Linked DNA regions of Homo sapiens. The protein of the gene in region 1 interacts with the protein of each later gene in a pairwise test. Each region holds a gene or a part of one and is shown on either strand. Other genes may lie near its edges.

Region 1 (3,817 bases):
GAGGTAGGAGCCCAGATCAAATGTAGAGGCTGGGAGAGACGGAAGCCCTCGAGACAACAACGTTCCTGAGCATAATCTGGGCACCAAAAGTGGAATGCGAGTCCTTTTGACCAGTAAAATTCATCCCCACCCCTCACCCCAGACAAATGAGAGAGGGAGTAATTCTAAGATGTAGAGAAACAGTTGGGAAAAAACTTTACAGAGGAGGTGGTATTGGAAGTGAGCCTTGTAGGTTTAGGAGGGATAAGGGCAGACTTTCACAATTTGTTTTTCCTTGTTTTTTTGTTTGTTTGTTTTGTTTTCTAAAGCCACACCAGGAGCAAGCGAGTATCAGAGGCAGAGCTTCTGAGCTTGCCTCAAAGGCAACACTATAAAATATGGTCCTTATTTTGAAGAACATCTCAGTCAAAGAGGGTCAAAACAGTGATTTTGCAGCGTGGTCACTTTCATTCCTGCAGCGCCTTTCCTCTAAGAACAGGCTCATGGGTAGGGGCTCCAGCTCAGATTTCTGGGAATTATTTGATTTGTCCACTCTGTTCCCAGGTGTGCACATCAGCATTAACCAGCTTCCCAGAGCTAGGTGGCTGGCTCTTTGACCCAGGGCCCAAGGCTGTCAGCAGTGGGAGTTGGTCTCTTTATTAAGTTCCATCTGAAATGCTAAGACCAATGATGGAATCACAGGCTGGTTTATTTTCTTGTCATTATTCTTGGCTTTAATTTCTTCCTGGGCCTGATCGACAGGTAGTATTGGTGAGGGAATTTCTTTTTCCTTTTTTCTGACAGCTCATAAATGTCTAGAACCGACAACATGGATTACACGGGCTTGCATTCCCTCAGTCTCCAGTCTTAAAATGTTTGTCCTGCGCATGTTCAGTCGCACAGTGAAGTGTTGATCCCTCCTTATTATGAGCTGCTTGGGCTCCAGTCCCAGTTGGTTTAGTCTGGTGCTATTAAAAATCTTGATGTGTTTAGCATATGACACTGATTCGGTGGAAACCAATACAGTAGTAATATCCTCACAATGCATTGTAATTTATAGTGCTCCCAGGGGATGACAGCCTTGGAATGCCTAACAGGGGAGAACTTATGAAAGCAGAGGTCACGTGGACTAGCCACCACCATAACCAGGCCAGAGAATAGCCGCAGCTCCTCACTCCCAGCCCCCCGTGCCACTTCTCTACTCCTCCACACAGAGCAAATAAAACAGCTATAGCTGCTGCGGCTGTAAAAACAAACAAATAAAACCCAGGCCTCTTTGTTGTGCTTGGATATGAAACTGAAATTAAAAACAAGTCCAGGTTTCTTCATTTGTAGCACCATGTGCCCTGATATCCCTTATTAACCTGTCACTTCTCCTAGTGGCAGGTGGGGAATAGACCATGGCTTCCAAACTCCTCTTTCTTAAAAGCAGAAATGGAGAAGACTGTTCACAGGAGAACACTGTTTGGCTAAAGTTGACCTAATAATGATATTAATAGCGTGACTCTTACTGGGCACCATGCTAAGTGCTCTACGTGAATTACCTCATTTACTCGTCCTCGTTAAAGCCCTATGAGGTAGATACTCTTGTCTCCATTTTACATTTGGAAAAAATGGAAGCTCAAAGAGGTTAAGCACCTTGTTGAGAATTATGTAGCTAGTTTCTAAGCCAGGATTTAAGCCTAGTTCTGTCCAATTAAGAGCCCATGCTTTAGTCCTCAACAACATAGTGCTGGGAGTTGAGAACACTTAAATCCAACTTTCTTTTCTTCTTACTGTTTTTCTTTCCCCAGAAAGGCCTGAGTGTGGACTGATGGGCAGACAGGAGGACCTCACTTGAGCCACTGGGCCCAGCTCTAGAACAGCAGATCTTTTTCTTACTCTTCTTCCTATCCACCACTGCTGCCCTGGCAAAATACTCTCCATTATTAATTTTTAAGTATAAATAATCCCAGGGGTTGAGCTGGCTTTTGCTTGTGCATTCTATGAAGTAAAGTAGGGACATGGTTTTTGTGGCAATAAATAGGAATAGTTTCCATTTTTCTAGCTAAGTATACAAATTTGATAATTAGCCAAACCAGTTTTCTGTTAGAAAAATTCAAAGTAATTTACAGAGGAAGAATTGCCAATAGGTGTGCGTCAGTCTGGGACAGAGTTCCTCCCGTCGGTGTTAATAAGCATGTTAGTGTCCTGTTTTTTTCCTACCCTCTCAGTGCTATTCATTCCCACCCCCCACAATGATTGCTGCATGTATTCATAGAGGAAAAAACTGAAGGCCCCACAACAATGATCGGAACATCAAACCAGCCTGAGAAGAACACAGCATGTCCAAGGGGGCTGAGGCTGAAGGGCAGGCCATCCCCCAGCGATTACATTCGGATTACCGACTTAATCTGCTTTGGTATTTGACCGCCAGCCTAACCACCCCAGGCTGCATTTGGAGGATATTGAGCACTTTCATCCCCAAGCACTTCACTGGCTTTATAAATGACCCACTCGATTCCCTTCGGCCTCCTCTGGGATGGGACATGGCAGCTGTTTAATTGCCACATAGCAATGTTGCAGTGTTTTAAGGCAGAAAAGAAGAATCCTGCATCCAGTTGAAGCTGCAGGGAACATTTAGGGAAGGGGAATGTAATTATCCACATTGGAAGTGGGCCAGGGTTTGGAGCTTTGGGGAAAGAGGCCTTTAGGACTTCTACTTTCCAGCCCACCTGAAAGATGGGGCCTCCTTTCAGCAGTCTGGGACATCAGCCTGCTTCCTGCTGATTTAGGAAAAAGCCCCCAGGCGCCACCTCCTTTATATATTCCCCATCAGACTCTTCACCGGGGTGGAAAGTCTCTTTTCCAAGGTCTGGCTGGGGCTCAGCTGGGAAGATATGACAGCGTCCCGGGAAGCTGCCTCACACCAGTTTGGGTTTAACATATAATCAAATCAGAGTGACAGCAGATGGAAACAGTCTTCTGTTGCCGCAGGAGCCGTCCTTGAGTTCAGAAACAAAGACGGGGGCAAGAAAGACAAGACAAAGTGTGCATTTGTACATGTGTGTTCACACCCATGCACTTGTGCATAGGAAAAATAAGAAGGACTTCCCCAAAATCTTTTATTGGGTCTTATCTCTAGAGGGAATGGGAAAGGAGACTTTCTTCTACATTCTAACAAAGAATTTAATTCTCAAGGTGTTTAAACAAAAAATAAAGGTGAAGCAGCCAGAGGTGTCAAGTTCCCTGAGTGGTTTTTAAGGTCAGAAGTAAGGAAATCAGCAGCTGACTTTCTTCCTTCTTTGAGTACTTCTTGGGAAGTTTTCTGTGTAAAACTCAAAATTTTTTGGAGTAAAAGTGCACAGAAAACCCTGGGGTGGTTGTCGTCCCTCCAGGCCACCTTGGTGCATTATTATGCATTAGGACACCCATTTTAGCAAGGCCCATGACTTACAGGGGCACCTCACTTATCCAGCCCTAGGTCGTGAGGTAGTCCTCATAATTTACTTTTTCAGATAATCAAAGCTTACCCTTTAAAGGCCAAATATAAAAAATAAATTGAGCTACTTAAAAAAAAACAGAAACCTTTCAAAATATTACATGTGCTTATTGAACACTTTCAGAATAAAGTTTTATTAATAATTCAAATTCTGGATTTGGAGTTAGGAGACCTGGAGTTTAGCCGTGGCATTTGTAAGATTGTCTCCTTGAGCCTCAGTAATTCTTCATAGTCTGTTTCCTAGAGAGTAGTGGCAAGGGTTGAAAGAGAGCAGTCAGGGAAAAAATGCTATTTCTCATTTTAAAAATACAGACATTGGGTAGATGCTTTCTTTTTTTTTTTTTTTTTTTTTTTTTT
Region 2 (3,109 bases), on another chromosome or scaffold:
GTTAGAATGCTGTTGACACGAGCTCCATGTTAGAGAATAAACAGTGATGTTACATAACAAACACATGGAAATAGAAACACACATACATGAGGCCAGGCGCGGTAGCTCACACCTGTAATCCCAGCACTTTGGGAGGCCGAGGTGGGTGGATCACGAGGTCAAGAGAATGAGACCGTCCCGGCCAACATGGTGAAACCCTGTCTGTATTAAAAATAGAAAAAACTAGCTGGGCGTGATGGCGTGCGCCTGTAGACCCAGCTACTTGGGAGGCTGAGGCAGGAGGATCGGTTGAACCCGGGAGGCGGAGGTTGCAGTGAGCCGAGATCGCGCCACTGCACTCCAGCCTCGCAACAGAGCGAGACTCCGTCTCAAAAAACAAACCAAAAAGACCAGAAACACACAAATGAAAATACGCATAGACCCAGATTATATATATATGGATTGATGAAAATACTGTAAGCCGAGGCTCGAGAGAGCCTAACCCTGTATTCCAGTAGGAGCAGTGGCTCAGGATCAGCTAATTGGAGTGTTCACGATGACTTTCTAGAACCTCACTACTGTGAATAAGGGGAACTGACTGTATCCCCTGGCACCAGCCCTGGGCTGGCCCCGCTGCAGCAGGGAACAAGACAGGTGCAGTCCCCTCCTTTGTGAAGCTTTGTGTCGAGCACGGGAGTGGGACCTTGATCCAGTAATCCTGGAGGCAGAGATCTAGCTTAAAGCAGCCCAGCTCCGCGGAAAGGTGCCCTTGGGGGACTGACGCAGCTGTGGAAGGCTGCGTCATCAGGGGTGATGTCATCATGTGACAGGAGACGCGAGCTAAAGGTTAAGTGGTGTTGGGCCCAGTGAGTGGGTGGCGATGGGAGGTGAGAGTGTTCCCAGCAAAGGGAATGAAGAGGGAACATGCCCCTGACAGCCCCCTCTTTCTGCCTCTTCCTCAGAATCCGGGGCACCAGCTACCAGAGCCCTCACGGCATCCCCATAGACCTGCTGGACCGGCTGCTTATCGTCTCCACCACCCCCTACAGCGAGAAAGACACGAAGCAGATCCTCCGCATCCGGTGCGGGCAGGACCAGGCCGTGCGCCTGAGACGCAGGGCTGGGGTCTACCCTGTTTGACAAATGCTGACACTGAGGTCCAGCGGAGTGGCATGGTGGCTGGGCCTACAGGAGAGAGGGCTGAGCGGGCACCCAGACGGTGGCCTCCGATCCGGGAGCAGGAGCCACGGTGGGAAAGGGAGGCGAGGTACCCGTGACTGGTGTTGGGGCCAGCGCCCTGGGGGTGGTCAGGAGGCCTCGGTTTTAGGTCCAGCCCAGCCCCTGTCTCCGTGGCTCTTCTAGCCTCAGCATTCTATGGTTCTAAGATGCAGGCGCCACATATTCCCAGTGGGGAAGGGCCAGAGGGTTGCTGTGGCCACTTCTGCTGCAGTCAGAGGCTGGGCCCCGGCTGAGCCACCCCTGTCCCCCACTGCTTGCAGGTGCGAGGAAGAAGATGTGGAGATGAGTGAGGACGCCTACACGGTGCTGACCCGCATCGGGCTGGAGACGTCACTGCGCTACGCCATCCAGCTCATCACAGCTGCCAGCTTGGTGTGCCGGAAACGCAAGGTCAGCCGGCCGAATTAGCCAGCAGGGCCAGATGGCGGCAGTGAGTGACACAGTACTTCAGGGGCTTCCAGGGTTCCGATTTCATCCTAGAATGTACGTTTTCAGACGCAGGGAATTTTCATCCCTCAGGTTGGCTTCTGTATCATCCAGCCTGGCCTATAGTAGGTATCAGTAAATCTCTCTTGACTTAAGTAGATGCTGTTAGGTCCACCTTACAGATAAAGAAACTGAGGAATGAAGAGGCTGGGCCCACAACAAGGAGATGGCCAGGCAGGATTTGAACCCAGGCAATCTGGCCCAGAATGCCCTCCCCTCACATGCCACACTCTGCTGCCTAGAGCATGGAGGTGGCATACGCTGGGGTCTGTGCCTTGAGCCTCACGGAGAGGGGCCCAACTGAGGACTCGCCCTCCCCCTCCAGGGTACAGAAGTGCAGGTGGATGACATCAAGCGGGTCTACTCACTCTTCCTGGACGAGTCCCGCTCCACGCAGTACATGAAGGAGTACCAGGACGCCTTCCTCTTCAACGAACTCAGTAAGAATCCCCACCCCGCACCTGCACTGCCAGAGCCAACCTCAGAGGGAGGAAGAGGGAGCTCGGCGTAGAAGGCTCAGGCCCTGCCACCTGGGCGACACTGACCATGTGGCCTTCCTTCTCCCCACAGAAGGCGAGACCATGGACACCTCCTGAGTTGGATGTCATCCCCCGACCCCACCCTGTTTTCCACCAGAGTTCTGACACTGTGACTCTGTATAAAATGGTTGGGAAGCTGCACCCACCCTGTGTATGTGTGGTTGCCCTGAGCCCACAGAAAGACACCTCCAGAGTGCGGATTGAGAAGCCTTTATTGTGGGAGGATCGGGGTGTCAGGGCTCCAGGAGTCGGGATGGACTTGGAAGGCTGCGGGGAGGGTCTTTAGAGGAAGAGGAGGCCTGAGAGTTGGGGGTGGTCACAGGTCAAGGGGTGGTCTTTGGGACCCCCACAGTCAGAGGTGCTGCGGCGGCAGGGTCCACAGCGACAGCTGAGAGCCACAGGGAAGGAGACCACGGGGTCCACACCACGCGGGCAGCCAGGGAGCCGGATGGACTCGAAGCGCACATCACGGTAGGTGCACACCACCTGAGGCAGGGGCGGCAGGACCGCCTGCAGCACGCGCATCTGGAGGCCGTGTGAGTGGGGGAATGAGCATGTGCCTGAGGCCAGCGCCTCAGCTGAGCTCCCAAGCTGACCCCACAGGTCCTGGACTCAGGAGCCCAGGAAGCCCTCTGTTCCTGCCTTCCCACACCCCATTCCCCAACCGCAGGCCAGAGAGGCAGACCACCCTTCCTCCCCCGCTGCCTCTGTGGGTCTGGCCCTGAGGTGGCAGCATCTGCCCCTGGCCCCAGGCAGCTCACCATGGTGGGGCAGTAGCCGGCACAGATGGTGGTGTTGACGGTGATGCACACTGGGCAGCCCTCCTTCTCGACAGCCAGGATGGCATTGATGGGGTGGCACCATGG

What was found.
Region 2: the proteins of DPCD (region 1) and RUVBL2 interact in binary tests that used the Homo sapiens proteins (3 or more experiments, as listed by UniProt).

Annotation. Positions count from the first base shown.
Region 1 is NC_000010.11:101,594,821-101,598,637, forward strand, and holds part of DPCD (protein DPCD), read left to right. Parts: intron 1-1,772; coding exon of another isoform or gene 1,773-1,819; exon of another isoform or gene 1,820-3,194; intron 3,195-3,817. UniProt on the Homo sapiens protein: May play a role in the formation or function of ciliated cells.
Region 2 is NC_000019.10:49,013,543-49,016,651, forward strand, and holds the end of RUVBL2 (ruvB-like 2), read left to right. Parts: intron 1-941; coding exon 942-1,061; intron 1,062-1,478; coding exon 1,479-1,608; intron 1,609-2,029; coding exon 2,030-2,144; intron 2,145-2,274; coding exon 2,275-2,300; 3' UTR 2,301-2,428; downstream 2,429-3,109. Other genes in the region: LHB (lutropin subunit beta), read right to left, coding at 2,526-2,768, 3,005-3,109. UniProt on the Homo sapiens protein: Possesses single-stranded DNA-stimulated ATPase and ATP-dependent DNA helicase (5' to 3') activity; hexamerization is thought to be critical for ATP hydrolysis and adjacent subunits in the ring-like structure contribute to the ATPase activity.